2 separate regions of the Homo sapiens genome follow, and region 2 is linked to region 1. Evidence: fine-mapped expression QTL. A gene starts in region 1. The other region holds a variant in brackets. All regions are shown on one strand. Distances are between the middles of the regions. Region 1 holds the start of NPSR1 (neuropeptide S receptor 1). Region 2 overlaps NPSR1 (neuropeptide S receptor 1).

Region 1 (12,832 bases):
TATAAACAATAGACTAATTGTGTATCACTTGTAACTATCCACCGAAGGAGGCGCAATAAAAGATTGTTATTAGGTGATATTTAGCAGTCTTAGTTCATGTTTCTGTGCTCACCTATGAGTAATAAAACTAAGTTTCATTTACATTATTTTATAATTTAGATAATTCACTAATCAAGACAGGTCTCCCTCCCAGTTACTTCTAATTAGGTTTCTCATTAAGTATCAGAGATTCAGGAAACATTGCTGGTGAATTCACCAGCAAAATTAAGGGCTTTCTGTGTGAAGAGTTTTGTATTTGTTTTGCATTTGGACAGCCTTATATTCAGATACCTCATTTATTTTCTGATGAGCTGGTTCCCATTTCCCCTTGAAAACTTCTGGTAGATTCTTGAAACGCATATAATTCCTTAGTGCCAAGACCTAGGTCTTGAAGAGGTGAGCTGGATGTGATCTTAAAAGCACACAAAACTGGAAACTGTGAAGGGAGCCAGGGTCTGAGCTGAGAATCTTGAACCCAAGACCACGTAGGGTTAGTTACACAAGGCCCATGGTGGAAGATGGGATGGGTGAACCCACCCTAGACCTCCCTGCTCATTTCCAAGAGCCTCACATGCTTAGGAAGGTAGAGTAGGTTAGAGGGGTGGAAGCAGAAGCCAGAATTCAAGGGTGGAGGTGGGAGGAAGGAACAGACTCTAAGCCTGTGAAGGAAGTGCCAGTAAGATCTAGACGGGGTGCTTTGTCTCCTCCTGAAAGAGCTTTGGAGTTCAGAGGATAAGAACTAGAATGTGAGATGGGAAACGAAGTCAGGAGCCTAGGTAAGTGGACGGAGCAAGACAGCTGAGACTAGGTAAGGCTGCCATGCAATAGAGATGGATTCCCCAGGGCTGGACCAGGTACTTGGTACCAGCTCATGGTGCCTCAGCTAATTCCATACCCCACCCACTGGAATCTAGAACCGACTTTGGTCTCATTGGCTTAGAAATGGAATAGGGACAAGCTGAACATGCTTGCAGAAAGGGACCTGGGTGAGTATAGAGACCAGGCAGGGTAGGGGCTGATGGGTGGAAACTTGGTTAATGAGAGCCCCCACCCACCTCTGTCACAGGGAATACATGCTTTCTGTTGCTTATTTGACAAAATGTTGGTAATTGGAAGAAAAAACACATCACAATTTGTTTATGCAGTCAATGTTTATTGAGTATGACTAACATAGTGGTAGGTCCTGGGAGAAAATATGAAACAAATATAAGGCATTCATTTTACTCAAGGAGCTTGAGGACTGTAACACATTCAGCCAACACATATGGAAATAGCAGTTTAAGACAGAACTGCATTAAGTGGCAAGAAGAGAGGTACAGTCCGTGACACTAATGAAGCTCAGGGAGGGATGAGTCAGGGAGGGATGAGTCAAGGAGGGCTTCATGGAGGAAGCAACCCAAGCTGAGCTTTATAGACTGGGTAAAATTGAGATAAACAGATGAAGATGGAAGGCAGGACCGGAAGGAAAGATACACCATGGATTGTGAGAATTAAATGAGATACTTCACAGAAGTCACTTGCTAAGTGAGTCTTGCTATGACTCTTGGCACCAAGAATGCCCAAAGTAAATGAGACGTATGGTTGTTGCTGTTATTTCTGTGACTTTTACTGCTGCTGCTATTTTTATTTTCATGCTATTTTTTTTACTGCTTTTGATGAAGGCAATGGGGATTAAAGGGGATACATCTGGGAGACAGTAAAGGGAGCATGGTTTCGAATTTCTTCTCTAGAAGTATGTCAGATAAAATGAATTGCAGTGAACAAGGGCTTGCATTGGAACTATTTCTGTATCAACAATGCATTAGAATTGCTTGTGCCCAAAGGGGATCATAGAAAAAAAGTTACACTAAGAAATATAAGCTAAGTTCTCACAAATACCACCAGTAATCACTGTGTAACTAAAAATCACAGGGTTTTAGTCAATACACGTATCTCTCAAATAATGAATCTGAGCATTCTAAGCTCCTGGCCAAACACAATTCCTGTCTTTCTGCTTTTCTCCTTGTCCAGTGGTCCAGCCGTTTTGCTGCAAACATATCAATAGGAATCAGCTAGAGATGCTGTGATTCTCTTTAGTGTCTGGCGATGATGTTGCTAGGATAGAGAGGACAAACACTCATAGAGAGCAAGGTGGGATTTGTTTCTTCACATATTCCAAATATCCCTGTAGGTGCTATATTCAAAAAATGGCAAATGAGATTTCAGCTGAGATTGATTCTTGCCAGAGTCTCAGAATAACCACCTTATTGCTGATTTTATTCCCTTTGCAATGGAGGGCCTCTCTTCATTCTGCTTGCTATCATGTTCTAAGAATATCAAAGAGGCTACACAGGCAGCAATACTGAGTGGAGTCCTGTGCTTCCTGGGTGCACACAGCCTGCCAAGACAGACTCTCTGGGTCTGCAGGCTGATTTCATAAAGGGGATTATTCAGTCGACATTAAGTGGCAACAAACTCTAATTTTACTTTCTAAGCTACATCGTGGAGCTGTGCAGCTGGGCTGCGTATGTGCATATGCATTAGGAGGTGATTCCAAGGGACAGGGTTTCACTGAAGCCAGTGGAGGAGTAGTTTGCTCAGGTTCTGCTTTGCTGCAGGATCATTAGGGCCCTGGAAGTTTAAGTCTGACTCCTGGGACAGCACCCTGCTGAAAGTTTTATTCTGAATATTTGCAAAAGAAGTGAACTTCCAGTAGGGAGGTGGATGTTACAGTAATGCTATCTCATTGTGTAAAAACCAAATCATTTCAAGAACATACAGAGGATTAACAACAACAACAACAACAAAACCCAACAAAGCAACAACTAGAATCTTTTTGAAGTATTTTTTCTTCAGTGGAAAGGACCAGTTTGAGACCTGTGAATTATTGCAATGACTAAACATATCGTTAGACAGGTGTGAAATAACCTGACAACCCAGCATTCTGAGGCAAGAAGCAGGAAACTGTTCTTTTCCCAAATGTGCGGTTCATTTCTGTCCACAAGATCTTGTTGCGGAATAAGAAACAATACAGTATTAGCTTAATGAAGATCCTTCCTCAGTGTGGCCCTTGGATACTTTGAAGGTGAAACTCACCAAACTCTCTGTCCTTCATTTGTTCTAGGAGGTAATTTGTTGCAAATGGTGGCATCATCAACTACCCTCAAAGAAATATATTCCTCACTGATGTTTAATGAAAAGGATCATCAAAGAAAGTGTCGTCCTTCCTGCCTTATTCAATGTTGTTTCTCATCATATCAGTCACTGTCCTGGGGATTGTGAGCTTTCCGCATCTCTGGTGTTCCTAGCAAAAAACTCATAGCTCTAACCCCTACTAGAAACAGACATTTCAAGTACTGCTATAGGATTAATTAAAAGTGCTTTCACCTAAGGAAAGGGGGAAAGTAAAAATCATCCACTCATAAATGTTACTCACGATTCACACATTTCCAGCAGCATCAGAAAGAAAAACGTCACCTGTATTCCTAAGAAACTACAATCTAGGTCTCTGCACACTACAGCTTGTTGTTTTAGCACTTCAGACTTTTAAAAATCCTTTTTAGTAAAGAAAATAACACTCATTCACAATACTGGCTATGATACTTCAATTGACACTCTTAAGTTCCAGCAGTCTCATTGTTATAAGTCAGTGTTCAGAGTCGCAGGCAAGAAACTTACCTTAAAGGAGTAGTAGAAGGAACCCCATTCCTTTCCTTCCACCACTTCAGTAAAAGTCACTGTTTCAGTGCAAGCCACTGGGGAAGAATCCAGCGTCTGCCCGGTCCCACTGGAATCGAAGCTGCCCTCTGTGAAGTTGGCTGGCATGGCTCAGGCGGGGTTGAGCCTCACTGTCCTTGCTCCTGCAGCTGAGTGAGGGAGTCCAGCTTGCCTCCTGAGAGCTGGGCAGCAGCTGCAGCTCTGCTGAACGGAGGCACAGAGCCCTCCCTGAGCCCACCTCACTGAAGAGCTCTGCCTGATGACAGGGAGGATCTACGTGCTGCTCTCTCCTTGGCAATTACCACCAGGTAGCCAGCATAGCACAACCCTCATCACCCCACAGTCCCACCCAGGGCCAGGGCCCCACCCCAAGAGCAAGGTGGAGCTCCCCATAGCCATCGACATGGCTCCCTGGATGAGACCCCTGTTCTGTTTTGCTTTTCCTTACTTCCACGGTGGACCCCCACTTCTGCTCCAGCTTCAACAATAAAGGAATTTGGACTAATCAGTAGGTGCATGAATTCGGGTCATGTTTCCACTTCTGAAATCAAATTATAATTATGCATTTGTTTCAGCTGAGGTTGCTTTCTGACTTAAAGCCTCACCTTGCCATCTACTGTGTCATGTGCTCTTATTTCCGTAAGTGTAGGCAAATAGTACGTTTGTATTTCACACCCTTAGTTCTATCTAGGTGTTCACAGGGCGGTTCTCAGAGAAACATGAGGTCTGTGTTTGTCAATAAGCTACAACACCTTGTGATATGACTGGGAGGGGCCTGGTGAAGATTCTTACTGCTTTCAGTATATTCACCTCAGCTTCTACCTAGGACCAATACTCAGGGCGAGGGTAGAAAGGAGGTAATGCAGCATCCTGGGCACCACAGACAGGGCTAGGCGAGAATACTAACAGCTATTCCTGTTTCACAAAAAACCTGCAAAGCACATTTACACGTTCTTTCATTCAGTTTCCCAAACAACCTTGTGAGATAGGCAGGGAAGGTATCTTTATGTTCTCCTTTATGCTAGCAGAGAGTGGCTCCAATAGGTGAAATGACTTGCCCAAGATCCCGCAGCTGCTGATGTAAATGAGCTGATAACCCATCTCCAGAACTTCCTAGACAGTGGTGCTTTTACTGTAACAGACTGGTTTGCATCAAATCTCAAATGTCTATGGGGCATGAAGGTAACATGAATGAGGGTAGCAGGCCAGGTATAAAACAATGGGAACTAAGCTGCTTATATGACAACCAAGCACAATACCTGATTCCTCACATTGAGAACACTCTGTGAACCAACCAGGTCCAGCCACTGGTTTATGGCACCTGGAATAAGAGGTAGTAGCTTTAGTGGCCACCACTAAAGAACCTGGCCCCCATGAGATCTCCTGGGGAAGCTTTATTATAAACCATCGAGCCCCAAGGAGGGCACAGTGCTCTAGCAATGAGAAGGCATTGAGTCTATAATGAAGGGCAGCAAACAGAAGTGAGTTGTGTAGAAAACTGGATAAGCTGTGGACTCTTAAGGAAAGGTTCAAAACAGGACAACAACTCAATAGCAAAACAAGTGCAGCATATTCCAACTAACAAATGAGTATGAAGATAGGCTCAACCATATTAAAAATTAAGGAAAATAACTAAAACCAGTAAGAATGTTTACCTATTATTATAGTGAAAGCTAGCGTGTGGCTATCCCCAAGTGCTGACAAGATTGAAGGGAAACGGGTGTACATCTTTACTTCTGGTGAGAGTTAGTTGATGTGGTAATTTTTGAAAAGCAATTCAGCAGTATTTAGTAAAGCTGGAATTACATATCCTCTAATGCATTGTTCCATTTCTAGATGCTAATAATTTTTCATCTCTATCTGGGTTACTTACATATGCTCAATTCACATAAATTCTTTGCACTACATACTTAAAACATATGCACTTTTCTGTAGGTATGTTTTACTTCAAGAAAATGTTTATAAGACAAAATCTGTGAGGAACTCCTGGGAGAAGGTAGAAGCTGGTTAGGTCACAGTGTGGTAGGGGCAGAGTGAGAGAAAGTGGCAGATGCCATGGACAGAGAATAGGTGGGGAGAGAGAGCTTTCTGGTTGTTTCCTTTTCTCTCCATTCATGATCCAGATAGACCATTGTTTAACCTGTGGCCACCCAAGAGAAACATTTATGTATCTATACAAGCAGTCATGCAAAATGATGCCTTCGCAAAGTATTAAAGAAACGTATCAGAAGCAACCTAAATATTCATGATGTCAAAATCAATGAATCATCCCAAACTGGAAACCACCCAAATGTCCATCAACTGGATGAATAAATTTTCATGTAGTCACACAATGAAATACTATATAGCAATAAGAAAATGATCTGTAGCCAAAAATAACATAAATGGAACTTACAAACATAATATTAAGCAAAATAATAAATATGGTTGTTTCCTTTTTTTTTTTTTTTTTTTTTGAGATGGAGTCTTTTTCTGTTGCCCAGGCTGGAGTGCAATGGCACGATCTCGGCTTACTGCAAGTTCTGCCTCCTGGGTTCACGCCATTCTCCTGCCTCAACCTCCCAAGTAGCTGGGACTACAGGCGCCTGCCACCACGCCTGGCTAATTTTTTGTATTTTTAGTAGAGACAGGGTTTCACCATGTTAGCCAGGATGGTCTTGATCTCCTGACCTCGTGATCCACCTGCCTCGGCCTCCCAAAGTGCTGGGATTACAGGTGTGAGCCACTGTGCCCAGCCCTTTCATCTTTATAAAGTATAACTGTGCATGTATATAACACAATGGAATACTATACAGTAGTTAGAAGAAAGTTGAGTGGACAAGAAGACAAACTAACATGGTATAATGATTAACTGTATGTGTCAGTTTGACTGGGCCATGGAGTGCCCAAATAGTTAAACATTATTCTGGGTGTGTCTGTGAGGTGGCTCTGGATGAGATTAGCATTTGAATTGGCAGACTGAGTAAAGCAGATTGCCCTCCCTAATGTGAATGGCTCTCATCCATTCAATTAAAGGCCTGAATAGAATAAATAGGCTAATTCTTCTGTGAAAAGCGGGGAACTCCTCTTGCCTGACTTCTTTGAGCTGGGACATTGTTTTTTTTCTGGCTTTTGGGCTTGAACTGAAACATCAGTTCTTCCTGGGTCTCAAGCCTGCCAGCTTTCAGACTGGAACTACACCATTGGCTCTCCTGGTTCTCAGGCCTTCATACTCAGACTGGAACTACACATCAGCTCTCCTGGGTCTCCAGCTTGCTTTCATGCGCGTCCGTGTGAAGAGAGCACCAAACAGGCTTTGTGTGAGCAACATGGCTGTTTATTTCACCTGGGTGCAGGTGGGCTGAGTCTGAAAAGAGAGTCAGCAAAGGGTGGTGGATTATCATTAGTTCTTATACGTTTTGGGATAGGCGGTGAAGTTAAGAGCAATGTTTTGCGGGCAGGGGTGGATCTCACAAAGTACATTCTCAAGGGTGGGGAGAATTACAAAGAACCTTCTTAAGGGTGGGGGAGATTACAAAGTACCTTGATCAGTTAGGGTGGGGCAGGAACAAATCACAATGGTGGAATGTCATCAGTTAAGGCGGGGCAGGGCCTTTTCACTTCTCTTGTGATTCTTCAGTTACTTCAGGCCATCTGGGCGTATACGTGCAAGTCACAGGGGATGCGATGGCTTGGCTTGGGCTCAGAGGCCTGACACTTGCTGCTTGCAGATCTTGGGACTTCTTAGTCTCTATTAATTGTGTGAATGATTATTTCATATTGTATTCCCTATAATAAATTTCTCTCTCTGTTTCTCTCTCTCCCCCCTCCCTACACACACACACACACACACACACACACACACACACACACACCCCTCCTATTAGTTCTATTTCTGTTTCTCTGGAGAACTCTAATACACATTCTTACCTGAACTCATTTGTAGAAATTCTGTCTCTTCCTTTTCTAGATGAAGGTCACCTTTCCCAGGTTACTGAGTCCCTTCTTTTCTGCTAGGAGAAGCTTTGCCTCAGTCTCATATCAGCCACATACTACTGGGAGATACTTGGTAAGAACATTTTTAAGTTTTGACCTTTCTAGTGTGACAAGCTTTGCCCATGATACAGGCATTTTAGCTTTAGCAGGGATGGAGAGTTCTGGAAGAGAATGCTCAAGGTTCCATGGATCCCCCCAGCTTCCTGCTTCATACATTCACTATGGGAGCCCTGGCCACAATTTTTATATCCTTGAACAAATACATCATTTTCCTGTAATGCTAAAAGAGAAGAGTTCATAAGCTTTGGAATAAAAGTTATAGGCAAAATATTTAAACTTGTTTTTTATATATGTATTTTTAATGGTTATTGGGGTCCATCTCAGTAGGGATTGACACTCTGCCTCATTGCAGGGAAAGTCCAAAAGTTTCTGTTAGTGCTATGTAAATGAGAAAGTTCTGGAGCTTGCAGGTATTTCCTGACTGTCCACAGTGATGCATTTGTTAGCTAACATTTTGTTAGTTGGCCTTTTCATATATGAACTGTGCCCTGGGCTGTCAAAATGATCTGGATTCAAACTTGGCTCTGCTATGTCCTGTCTGTGAGTCCCTGGATTATTTACTTAACAGTTCTAAGCCTCTTTCTTCTCATCTGTTAACTGAGAGACTGTGGTGCCTGCATCATGAAGGTATTGGAAATCAAATGAGATCTAATTGTCTTCCTTCTTGTCTTCTGCTTAATCGTTACTATTTTTAAAAATGTGAACAATTTTTCCTTGACTCTTTCTTTAGTCTCCAAATTCCTGAATGGAGACACTGCACCTTTTCTCCTTGTATCCTCTGACAAGTTTGAACTTTACCAGAACCCTGTGATCCTGGAAAACAGAAAAGGTTAATAAATGCCCCCACTGCTTTGTGTTCCAGAAAGGGCTTTGTGCAGCTAACCATTATTCCCCATGTGACTTAAATCAGATTCACCAATGCTGCCTTGTGGGCATTGATATGGTTCAAATGTTTTGTCCCCTTCAAATCTCATGTTGAAATGTGACCTCTAATGTTGGAGGTGGGGCCTGGTGGGAGGTGTTTCGATCATGGGGGTGGATCCCTCATGAAGGGCTTGGTGCTGTTCTTGCAGTAATGAGTGAGTTCTTGATTTTAGTTCTCATGAGATCTGGTTGTTCAAAGAGCCTGGCACCTCCTCCTTTCTCTCTTGCTCCCTCTCTTGCCATGTGGCGTGCCTGTTCCTACTTTGCCTTCTGCCATGATTGTAAGCTTCCCAAGGCCCTCACCAGAAGCAAATGCTGACACTATGCTTCTTGTACAGCCTGCAGAACTGTGAACCAAATGAACCTCTGTTCTTTTTAAATTACCCAATTTCACATATATTTTTGTAGCAACACAGAGTAAATAGCCATCAACACTTATAACAAGGCCAGACGCAGACCCTCTAAATTCCTTTTGTTTGTCTCATAAATGATATTAGCTAAGCTGTTTTGTCCCCACTGATCAATCAGAAAAAAATGCAGGCTAAACCAACTTTGGTTAAGATTCTTTGCTTCTCCTAGGCTGAACTTTGTCCCGCCCTCAGCCTCAGCCAGCACACAGCTCCTCCTCCACAGCCTCTCCCTGGAGTACGCTGCAGAGTTCAGGGTAAAATATTCCCTCATCTACTGGCAGATCGTGTCACTCCTGTCATGGTACTTCTCCACACCTGGTTCTTTCTAGCCTTGTCTATTCTTTCCTATGAAAGAGAATCTCTTTTTTCCTAACCCTTGAGATACTTCCAGATCTCATGATAAGAATGTTCTCCAAACTACAACAGCCCCTTTCTCCTTACTGTAATGGTCCAGTCTCCCTCTTGCACTAATCCTTTCGAATAAAGTCTCTTTATTTTATTTTATTCTATTTTAAGATGGAGTCTTGCTCTGTTGCCAGGCTGGAGTGCACTGGCGTGATCTCAGCTTATTGCAATCTCCGCCTCCCGGGTTCAAGGAATTCTCCTGTCTCAGCCTCCCCAGTAGCTGGGACTACAGGCCCATGGCACCACGCCCAGCTAATTTTTGTATTTTTAGTAGAGACTGGGTTTCACCATTTTGTCCAGGATGGTCTCGATTTCTTGACCTTGTGATCCGCCCGCCTCGGCCTCCCGAAGGGCTGGGATTACAGGCGTGAGCCACCCACCGCACCCAGCCTGAATAAAGTCTCTTCTTACCTAAGTGCCAAATTGTTTTTGGACATTCTCAGAGTGTTTAAAAATGCATGCTGTATTGAATTAAAATATGTTATTAGCTCAAAATTCAATCACAAAAACTGTATTAAGCAATTAATATATGAGGAATAAGTTGTATCAGATTTTGCCAGAGCTTCCCTGACACATGCAAATTCATGGTTTGGTTGGGTAGAATAGACACAAATGCTCTCAGTTAAATAACAAAAGAAGAGTAAAATAACACAAGCATAGTAGGTGATAAAGGCAGTGTGATTAATCTCTGAGTAGCAAAGAGAATTATTCTTTTGAGTTCCAAGGAAGCAGAGCTCATAGTTTTGAGGTTTAAATTTGGGCTTGGGTGTTTTTAGTAACTTTGGATGAAGAACACAAGTTTTATTTTCCCACCTGAGTGCAGAATGGTAAGTGTGGATTGTAGAGCAAAGGAAATTAACTTCCACCAGTGGGATTTTGATCCTCTGATATCAGAATGTGTCACAGCCTGCAGAGATTAAATTTCTCAGCATTAGGTGTAAACAGACACTCACTCCCATGACTTTGCTTTCAAAAAAATTAGCTGACATTTAAGCTTGAAATAGCCATGTTGTTGCACCCACTATTTAATTCAGATATATCACAGATGCTGCATTTGGATGTTTATTCTATAAAAAAAACTGTGTAAAAGTGGATTGGTTGGAAGAGTTGTAATTACTCAGATAGGATCAGGAAAGAATATGGGAGAAGGTAAAGGGGGAACTCCATCTCACCACTGTGCTGGGTGCCTGAAAGATGTCACAACATTTAATTCCCATAATATTTCCTTAAAGTAGGTGCATATTTCCCCATAGTGAAGGTGCGGAGAGCTCTTGGTAAGGAATAACTCTTCAAGTAGAGAAATAAGATAAGAAATGACCATTGACTTTCCACACCAGTTAACTTTTCATAGTACCTTAGTTTTGGCTTGGAATTCTGATATGGTGGTGAGGGTTCTAAATCATTAGTATGAAATAAGAGTATCCTCAGCATAGCATTAAACAGAAAATTGCTTTGAGGGCAGAGAAATTCTTGGGATCCTGCAGAAAAGACAAATGTGGTATATTATATTTAGTAATTGCTTGCTGTAATGGGTACAAGAGGTTATACCTGTTACAATGATTAAGAAATACAGTCCCTAAAGAAATGGAATGCAATGTTCTACTTAAAGGAGGACACTAGAATAAATATGATTTCACAGTCCATACTTTTAGGGTTGTATTTTTCTAATTATAACACCAAACTGTAGTTCCTTTAAATAAATACCTGAAGATGTAAAGACACAACTTATATTAACTGCTAATGTATTCCTCAGTGCCCAATTGTGATTCTTATATTCAGCTCTGCATTCTGCTTTTTAATTCCACTTGTTGTAGATTTTTGTATTAAGGTATATATTTTAGTGTCTCTTTGTTCTGCTAACATGAAATGTGTTATGATTTATTCAATCATCCCTATAATAAAGATTAAAGTTTTTTCTGAGTTTCCAGAAACAGCACCGAACAAACATTCTTGAGCTCTTGTCTGATTATTTCCTCAAAATATTTTATTGAAGTACAATTGCTATTACTACATCTTCATCAATTCCTTCTTTTTCTTTCTTAATTTTGCTGTCTTTAAAAAATCTGAATGCTTGGATTAAATACTTAACGTTTATTTTCATTCATTCATATTTATAATTGAAGCATTTAAGGCAACGAATTTTCCTCTGAATCTGCTTTTAGCTGTGACCTGGAGAGTCTGATATGTGGTATTTTCATTTTCATTATTTTCTACAATAAATACAATGTGTGTCTGATTTCTTCTTAGACCAAAGAATTACTTGGAAGTGACTTCTAAATGTTTATATTTTTGTTCAGTTTAATTTCAAGTTTTGTTTATTTCTTGAATTATATTTTGAAGGCAAGTTCTATCTTTTGAAATATTTTAAAACATTATATATATATGTTCAGTTTTTGAAAAAATACCTGGAATTCTATTTATAAGATAATTTCACAAATGCCTGTGTGTGTGCACATGTGCGCACGCACACACACATATTTTTAGAAGCATTTTATTAGGTACTCTTAGTTCTACTGAAGTCTCTAGAATCTCATTTCTTTACCTTTTAGCTTTTGTCTACCTAATTTGTCAAAGGCACAGAAAGGTTTGTTTATGTTTTCCATTATTATTGGGGCCCTGTGTTTCTCTTTGTATTTCCTCTAGGTCTACACTGTACATTTTGATGCTGTATTGTTGTCATAAAAAGATTCATGACACACGTGATTATGTTGAATTTGTCAACCATCAAGTAAAAAGACTCTCATATAATTTTTTCACCTTGGATTTTGATTTGTTATAAACTAATTTTATGTGCTGATATCAGTTAATAATTGCTTTTTAGTCCAAGTACAGAGATCTTAAAAAAAGAGCAATTTGAACAAAACAGAATGCTTGTTTGTCTTTCCCTCAAGAAAGATAGAGTCAAGGTATTGTGGTGAAGACACAAGGTAAATAACATGATCACCTTACTTTGGGCCTAAGAACTAGAGTTGGTAAGTTGCAGAACCAAAACTTTCAGTCATGGAAGTCTCCAAAGCTATTGTTCTTAACCCTTTTATTACACTAAATCTGCAGAGCTATTATAGTGTTCATCATAAAGAAACAAACTAGTTTTAGAAAAAAAAGTGGTTGTACCAAGGAATCCTGTATTTCAAGGATAAACAAGTTTTACATGCATTCAGTAAAAGTGAGTCACTAATAAAGAAATACTATATTAATTTAGTAAGTAAATAAAAAAACAGTATCTTGAATTTTTTCTTTACAACATTATATGCCAGAAAATAATTTTTACAAAGTCAAGTTTGAATTAATGTAGGAAAGCAATGGGGAATTAGTGGTAACAT
Region 2 (8,000 bases), 150 kb before region 1:
GTATATTAACCTTCTATTCTTCAGTGTTGCCATTTTTTTGCCTACTAGGTCTGGAAGTTTCTTTTTTGTTTGTTTTTATTTTTCTTGTCTATTCTTTCAGATTTTAATATAGAAAATTACAAATTTATTAACAAAGACATTTTTATTTCATCTTTTCCAATGTATAAACTTTTTATTTACTTTTCTTGTCCTGTTAAATTATCTAAGACATCTAGTTCAGTGTTGAATGGGAGTGGCGAGAGAGGACATCTTTACCTTGTTCCCAGTCTTAGGACAAAAGCACCTAATTTCTTGCCATTAAATATGAGGTTAACTGTATGGTTTTTTTAGATGCTGTTAATGAAGTTGAGGCAGTTTCTCTTTGTTTCCAGTTTGCTGAGTTTTTATTATAAATGGATGTTGAATTTTGTTAAATGCTTTTCCTGTGTCCATTGATGGAAAAATCACATAATTTTCCTTCTTTATCTTGTTTGTGTGATAGATTATATTAATTGATTTTTAAATATTTAACCAGATTTTCATGCCTGGAATAAATCTCACTTGGCCACGGACTATAATTCTTTCTATACATGATTATACCTTTAAACAAAAATTTAAGTTGCTAATATTTATTGAGAATTTTTGCATTTATGTTCATGAGGGATATTGTTCTGTAGTTTTCCTTTCTTTTAATATCATTGGTTTTAGAATTAGGGCATTTCTGGCCTCATGGAACAAGTCAGCAAGTATATGAATTAGGAATGGTTCCCTTTTCATCTGTTTTCTAGAGAAGACTGCAGATAATTGTTACCATTTTTTTTTTAAATGATTGACAGAATTCACTAATGAACCCATCTGGGCCTGGTGTTTTCTTTTGTGGAAGATTATTAATTATTAATTCAGTTTCTTTAGTAGGTATAGGCCTATTCAAATTATCTATTTCACTTTATGTGAGTTTTGGCAGATTGAGCTTTTCAAGGAATAGGTTCATTTCATCTAAGCTATCAAACTTGTGGGCATAGAGTTGTTTATGGTATTTATTTATCATTCTTTTAATGTCCACAGAATCAGTAGTGATGACCCCTCTTTCATTTCTGATATTAGTAACTTGTGGCTTCCCTCTTCTTTTTTTTTTTTCTACTCATGCTATCTTTTTTTAAATTTTATTTTATTACTATTATACTTTAAGTTTTAGGGTACATGTACACAATGTGCAGGTTAGTTACATATGTATACGTGTGCCATGCTGGTGTGGTGCACCCACTAACTTGTCATTTAGCATTAGGTATATCTCCTAATGCTATCCCTCCCCCCTCCTCCCACCCCACAACAGTCCCCAGAGTGTGATGTTCCCCTTCCTGTGTCCATGTGTTCTCATTGTCCAATTCCCACCTATGAGTGCGAACCTGCGGTGTTTGATTTTTTGTCCTTGCGATAGTTTACTGAGAATGATGATTTCCAATTTCATCCATGTCCCTACAAAGGACATGAACTCATCCTTTTTTATGGTTGCATAGTATTCCATGGTGTATATGTGCCACATTTTCTTAATCCAGTCTATCACTGTTGGACATTTGGGTTGGTTCCAAGTCTTTGCTATTGTGAATAGTGCCGCAATAAACATACGTGTGCATGTGTCTTTATAGCAGCATGATTTATAGTCCTTTGGGTAAATACCCAGTAATGGGATGGCTGGGTCAAATGGTATTTCTAGTTCTAGATCCCTGAGGAATCGCCACACTGACTTCCACAAGGGTTGAACTAGTTTACAGTCCCACCAACAGTGTAAAAGTGTTCCTATTTCTCCACATCCTCTCCAGCACCTGTTGTTTCCTGACTTTTTAATGATTGCCATTCTAACTGGTGTGAGATGGTAGCTCATTGTGGTTTTGATTTGCATTTCTCTGATGGCCAGTGGTGGTGAGCATTTTTTCATGTGTTTTTTGCCTGCATAAATGACTTCTTTTGAGAAGTGTCTGTTCTTGTCCTTCGCCCACTTTTTGATGGGGTTGTTTGTTTTTTTCTTGTAAATTTGTTTGAGTTCATTGTAGATTCTGGATATTAGCCCTTTGTCAGATGAGTAGGTTGCAAAAATTGTCTCCCATTTTGTAGGTTGCCTGTTCACTCTGATGGTAGTTTCCTTTGCTGTGCAGAAGCTCTTTAGTTTAATTAGATCCCATTTGTCAATTATGGCTTTTGTTGCCATTGCTTTTGGTGTTTTAGACATGAAGTCCTTGCCCATGCCTATGTCCTGAATGGTAATGCTTAGGTTTTCTTCTAGGGTTTTTATGGTTTTAGGTCTAACAATTTAGTCTTTAATCCATCTTGAATTGATTTTTGTATGAGGTGTAAGGAAGGGATCCAGTTTCAGCTTTCTACATATGGCTATCCAGTTTTCCCAGCACCGTTTATTAAATAGGGAATCCTTTCCCCATTGCTTGTTTTTCTCAGGTTTGTCAAAGATCAGATAGTTGTAGATATGCGGCGTTATTTCTGAGGGCTCTGTTCTGTTCCATTGATCTATATCTCTGTTTTGGTACCAGTACCATGCTGTTTTGGTTATTGTAGCCTTGTAGTATAGTTTGAAGTCAGGTAGTGTGATGCCTCCAGCTTTGTTCTTTTGGCTTAGGATTGACTTCGCGATGTGAGCTCTTTTTTGGTTCCATATGAAGTTTAAAGTAGTTTTTTCCAATTCTGTGAAGAAAGTCATTTGTAGCTTGATGGGGATGGCATTGAATCTATAAAATACCTTGGGCAGTATGGGCATTTTCACGATATTGATTCTTCCTACCCATGAGCATGGAATGTTCTTCCATTTCTTTGTATCCTCTTTTATTTCATTGAGCAGTGGTTTGTAGTTCTCCTTGAAGAGGTCCTTCACGTCACTTGTAAGTTGGATTCCTAGGTATTTTATTCTCTTTGAAGCAATTGTGAATGGGTGTTCCCTCATGATTTGGCTCTCTGATTGTCTGTTATTGGTGTATAAGAATGCTTGTGATTTTTGTACATTGATTTTGTATCCTGAGACTTTGCTGAAGTTGC[C/T]TATCAGCTTAAGGAGATTTGGGGCTGAGATGATGGGGCTAGATATACAATCATGTCATCTGCAAACAGGGACAATTTGACTTCCTCTTTTCCTAATTGAATACTCTTTATTTCCTTCTCCTGCCTAATTGCCCTGGCCAGAACTTCCAACACTATGTTGAATAGGAGTGGTGAGAGAGGGCATCCCTGTCTTGTGCCAGTTTTCAAAGGGAATGCTTCCAGTTTTTGCCCATTCAATATGATATTGGCTGTGGGTTTGTCATAGATAGCTCTTATTATTTTGAGATATGTCCCATCAATACCTAATTTATTGAGTGTTTTTAGCATGAAGGGTTGTTGAATTTTGTCAAAGGCCTTTTCTGCATCTATTGAGATAATCATGTGGTTTTTGTCTTTGGTTCTGTTTATATACTGGATTACATTTATTGATTTGCATATGTTGAACCAGCCTTCCATCCCGGGGATGAAGCCGACTTGATCATGGTGGATAAGCTTTTTGATGTGCTGCAGGATTCAGTTTGCCAGTACTTTATTGAGGATTTTCACATCGATGTTCATCAAGGATATTGGTCTAAAATTCTCTTTTTTTTGTTTTGTCTCTGCCAGGCTTTGGTATCAGGATGATGCTGGCCTTATAAAATGAGTTAGGGAGGATTCCCTCTTTTTCTATTGATTGGAATAGTTTCAGAAGGAATGGTACCAACTCCTCTTTGTACCTTTGGTAGAATTCAGTTGTGAATTGGTCTGGTCCTGGACTTTTTTTGGTTGGTAGCCTATTAATTATTGCCTCAATTTTGGAGCCTGTTAATGGTCTATTCAGAGATTCAACTTCTTCCTGGTTTAGTCTTGGGAGGGTGTATGTGTCCAGGAATTTATCCATTTCTTCTAGATTTTCTAGTTTATTTGCATGGAGGTGTTTATAGTATTCTCTGATGGTAGTTTGTATTTCTGCGGGATTGGTAGTGATATCCACATTATTATTTTTTATTGCATCTATTTGATTCTTCCCTCTTTTCTTCTTTATTAGTCTTGCTAGCAGTCTATCAATTTTGTTGATCTTTTCAGAAAACCAGCTCCTGGATTCATTGACTTTTCGAAGGGTTTTTGTGTCTCTATCTCCTTCAGTTCTGCTCTGATCTTAGTTATTTCTTGCCTTCTGCTAGCTTTTGAATTTGTTTGCTCTTGCTTCTCTAGTTCTTTTAATTGTGATGTTAGGGTGTCAATTTTAGATCTCTCCTGCTTTCTCTTGTGGGCATTTAGTGCTATAAATTTCCCTCTACACACTACTTTAAATGTGTCCCAGAGAATCTGGTACATAGTGTCTTTGTTCTTATTGGTTTCAAAGAACATCTTTATTTCTGCCTTCATTTCACTATGTACCCAGTAGTCATTCAGGAGCAGGTTATTCAGTTTCCATGTAGTTGTGCGGTTTTGAGTGAGTTTCTTAATCCTGAGGTCTAATTTGATAGCACTGTGGTCTGAGAGACAGTTTGTTGTGATTGCTGTTCTTTTACACTTGCTGAGGAGTGCTTTACTTCCAATTATGTAGTCAATTTTGGAATAAGTGCAATGCGGTGCTGAAAAGAATGTATATTCTGTTGTTTTGGGGTGAAGAGTTCTGTAGATGTCTATTAAGTCTGCTTGGTGCTGAGCTGAGTTCAAGTCCTGAATATCCTTGTTAACCTTCTGTCTCGTTGATCTGTCTAATATTGACAGTGGGGTGTTAAAGTCTCCCATTATTATTGTGTTGGAGTCTAAGTCTCTCTGTAGGTCTCTAAGGACTTGCTTTATGAATCTGGGTGCTCCTGTGTTGGGTGCATATATATTTAGGATAGTTGGCTCTTCTTGTTGAATTGATCCCTTTACCATTATGCAGTGGCCTTCTTTGACTCTTTTGATCTTTGTTGGTTTAAAGTCTATTTTATCAGACACTAGGATTGCAACCCCTGCTTTTTTTTGCTTTCCATTTTCTTGGTAGATCTTCCTCCATCCCTTTATTTTGAGCCTATGTGTATCTCTGCACATGAGATGAGTCTCCTGAATACAGCACACTGATGGGTCCTGACTCTTTATCCAATTTGCCAGTGTGTGTCTTTTAATTGGAGCATTTAGCCCATTTACATTTAAGGTTAATATTGTTATGTGTAAATTTGATCCTGTCATTATGATGTTAGCTGGTTATTTTGCTCGTTAGTTGATGCAGTTTCTTCCTACTCTCGATGGTCTTTACATTTTGTCATGGTTTTGCAGTGGCTGGTACCGGTTGTTCCTTTGCATGTTTAGTGCTTCCTTCAGGAGCTCTTTTAGGGCAGGCCTGGTGGTGACAAAAGTCTCTCAGCATTTGCTTGTCTGTAAAATATTTTATTTCTCCTTCACTTATGATGCTTAGTTTGGCTGGATATGAAATTCTGGGTTGAAAATTGTTTTCTTTAAGAATGTTGAATCCTCTTCTTTTCTTGATTAGCCTGGCTAGAAATTTATCAATTTTATTATCTTTTTAAAGAAACAGCTTTTGGTTTCATTGATTTTTCAGTATTGAATTCCTGTTTTAAATTTAATTATTAATTTTTTCTGATTTTAATTAAATTTTTAATTGAAAAACAAAATAATATACGTTTATGCTGTATAACGTGTTTATGTATACATGTGGAATGGCTAAGTAAAGCTAATTAACATATTCATTACCTCACATACTTACTCTGCAGAGAAAATTTAAATTCTACTTCAATTTAATAATTTATGCTCCAATTTTTATCATTTCTTTTATTCTGCTTTCTTTAGGCCTACATTTCTTTTCTTTCTCTAGTTTCCTAAGGCCTAAGATTAGTTTATTAATATCACATTTTTTTATTTTCTAATATATCCATTCAGTGTTATAAATTTCACTCAAAGAACTGCTTTTACTGCATCCTACAAACTATGATGTTACATTTTCATTTATTTCAAAATATTTCTTGAGATATCTTCTTCAATTCACTTATTACTTAGAAGTGTGTTGTTCAATCTCCAAACAGTTTGAAAATTTTCAGCTATCCTTCTGTTACTGATTTTTAGTTCTATTCTGTGTGTTCTGAGAGTATACTTTGTGTAATTTCTATTTTTTTACATTGTTAAAATGTGTTTTATGGTCCATATGAAGTTTCTCTTGATGGAAATCGCATATAAGTTTGATAAGAAGATATATTCTGCTATTACTGGATGAAGTATTCTACAAATGCCAATTAGATCCATTTAATTAATAGTTCAGTTCACTTTAACTGATAGCTGTTCAGTTAAATTGTATTTCTCTTTGCATTCAACCCCCCGCCCCTTTTTCTTAGACAGAGTCTCACTCTGTCACCCAGGCTGGAGTGTAGTGGTACAATCTTGGATCACTGCAACCTTCGCCTTCCGGGTTCAAGAGATTCTCCTGCTTCAGCCTCCCGAGTAGCTGGGATTACAGGTGCGTGCCACCACATCTGGCCTATTTTTGTATTTTTAGTAGACACGGGGTTTCACCATGTTGGTCAGGCTGGCCACAAGCTCCTGACCTCAAGTGATCCACCTGCCTCGGCCTCCCAAAGTTCTGGGATTACAGGCATGGGCCACCCGTGCCTGGGCTGCATCTCTTTTAATATTGTCATTCAGTTCACTTATCCTAATAAGTGGTAATAATGATTACCAATGCATTATTGCTATTTTTGTGTCGAGCAACTATCTATAGGTCAATTAAGAGTAAGAAAAGTAGCTTTAATTTGCCTTCATTTATTCCTTCTCAATTGCTCTTCCTTTATATTGATTTGTGCTTATTATTTTATCATTTTCCCCTTTATCTGAAGAACTTCTTTTAGCATTTTTTGTAAGAAAAGTTTACTTTTGAGAAATTTCCTGTTTTTGTATGTCTGAGAAAGTCTTTATTTCTTCTTCACTTTTGAAGAATAATTTCACTTGATAGAGAATTCTAGGTCAGGGGGATTTGTATTCTTTTCCCACTTTAAATATTTTATTATACTATCTTCTTACTTGGCTGATTTCTGATAAGTCAGAGGAAATTCTTATTATTGTTTATTTATCTGTAAGTTTCCCCCTCAACTTCTATCAGGATTTTATCTTTGTCTTTGGTTTTCTGCAGTTTGAATATGATATGCCTAGAGGTACATTTTTTCTGACATTTATTTTGCTTTGGTGTTCTCTGAGCTTCCTGGATCTCTGGATTGGTGTTTGCCATTAATTTAGAAAATTTTTCATCTTTTATTTCTTCAAATACTTCTTCTGCTCTTTTCTTTTTTTGGTATTTCTGTTATATGTGTGTGCTACACTTTGTGTAATTGTCCCACAGTTCTTGGGAATTCTATTACATGTTTAAAAGTAGATTTTATTATTAGAGCAGTTTTAGATTAATAACATAATTGAGCAGAAGTTACAGATTTCCCATAAACCCCCTGTCCCCCATACACAGAGCCTCACTCACCATCACGCTTCCATGCAAGAGTGGTATATTTGTTACAGTGGATGAACCTACATTGACACATCATTATCACCCAAAGTTCATAGTTTACATTAGGATTCACTCTTGGTGTTATACATTGTATTTTGACAAAAGTATAGACATGTGTCCACTGTTATAGTATAGTACAGAGTAGTTCTACTGCCCTTTGTTCCCCCTCTGTGCTCTGCCTCCCTCTCCCCAAGCCCTGGCAACCACTAATGTTTTCACTTTCTCCAGAGTTTTGCCTTTTCCAGAATGTCATAAAGTTGGAATCTACAGTATGTAGCTTCTCAGACTGTCACTTTTGCTTACTAATATGCATAAATTTCTTCCATGTCTTTGCATGAGACACGTAACCTTTAAATAAGCTTGACAGCTCATTTCTTTTTAGCACTGAATAATATTTCATTGTATGGATGTACCACAGCTTATTTCTCCATTTACCTACCAAAGGACATCTTGGTTGCTTCCAAGTTTGGAAAATAGGAATAAACATGATATAAACGTTTGT

The links. PIP is the estimated chance that this variant, and not a neighbour inherited with it, causes the effect.
Region 2: its variant is fine-mapped to the expression of NPSR1 in prefrontal cortex (BrainSeq, PIP 0.92).

The regions. Positions count from the first base shown.
Region 1 is chr7:34,649,424-34,662,255 of GRCh38, reverse strand. It overlaps NPSR1 (neuropeptide S receptor 1), which reads right to left and starts at 4,038. Exons shown (of 9, transcript NM_207172.2): 1 at 3,697-4,038. The coding sequence starts at 3,843. The region is part of intron 2 of NPSR1-AS1 (NPSR1 antisense RNA 1); the gene reads left to right. RefSeq lists enhancers at 1-325, 1,162-1,999, 6,660-7,859, 9,789-10,374.
Region 2 is chr7:34,796,873-34,804,872 of GRCh38, reverse strand. The region is part of intron 3 of NPSR1 (neuropeptide S receptor 1); the gene reads right to left. It also overlaps a transcript of NPSR1-AS1 not described here. Among named protein-coding and RNA genes, the nearest start is that of NPSR1-AS1, 43 kb to the right of the region's middle. The variant C/T (reference allele first, on the strand shown) is at 3,022.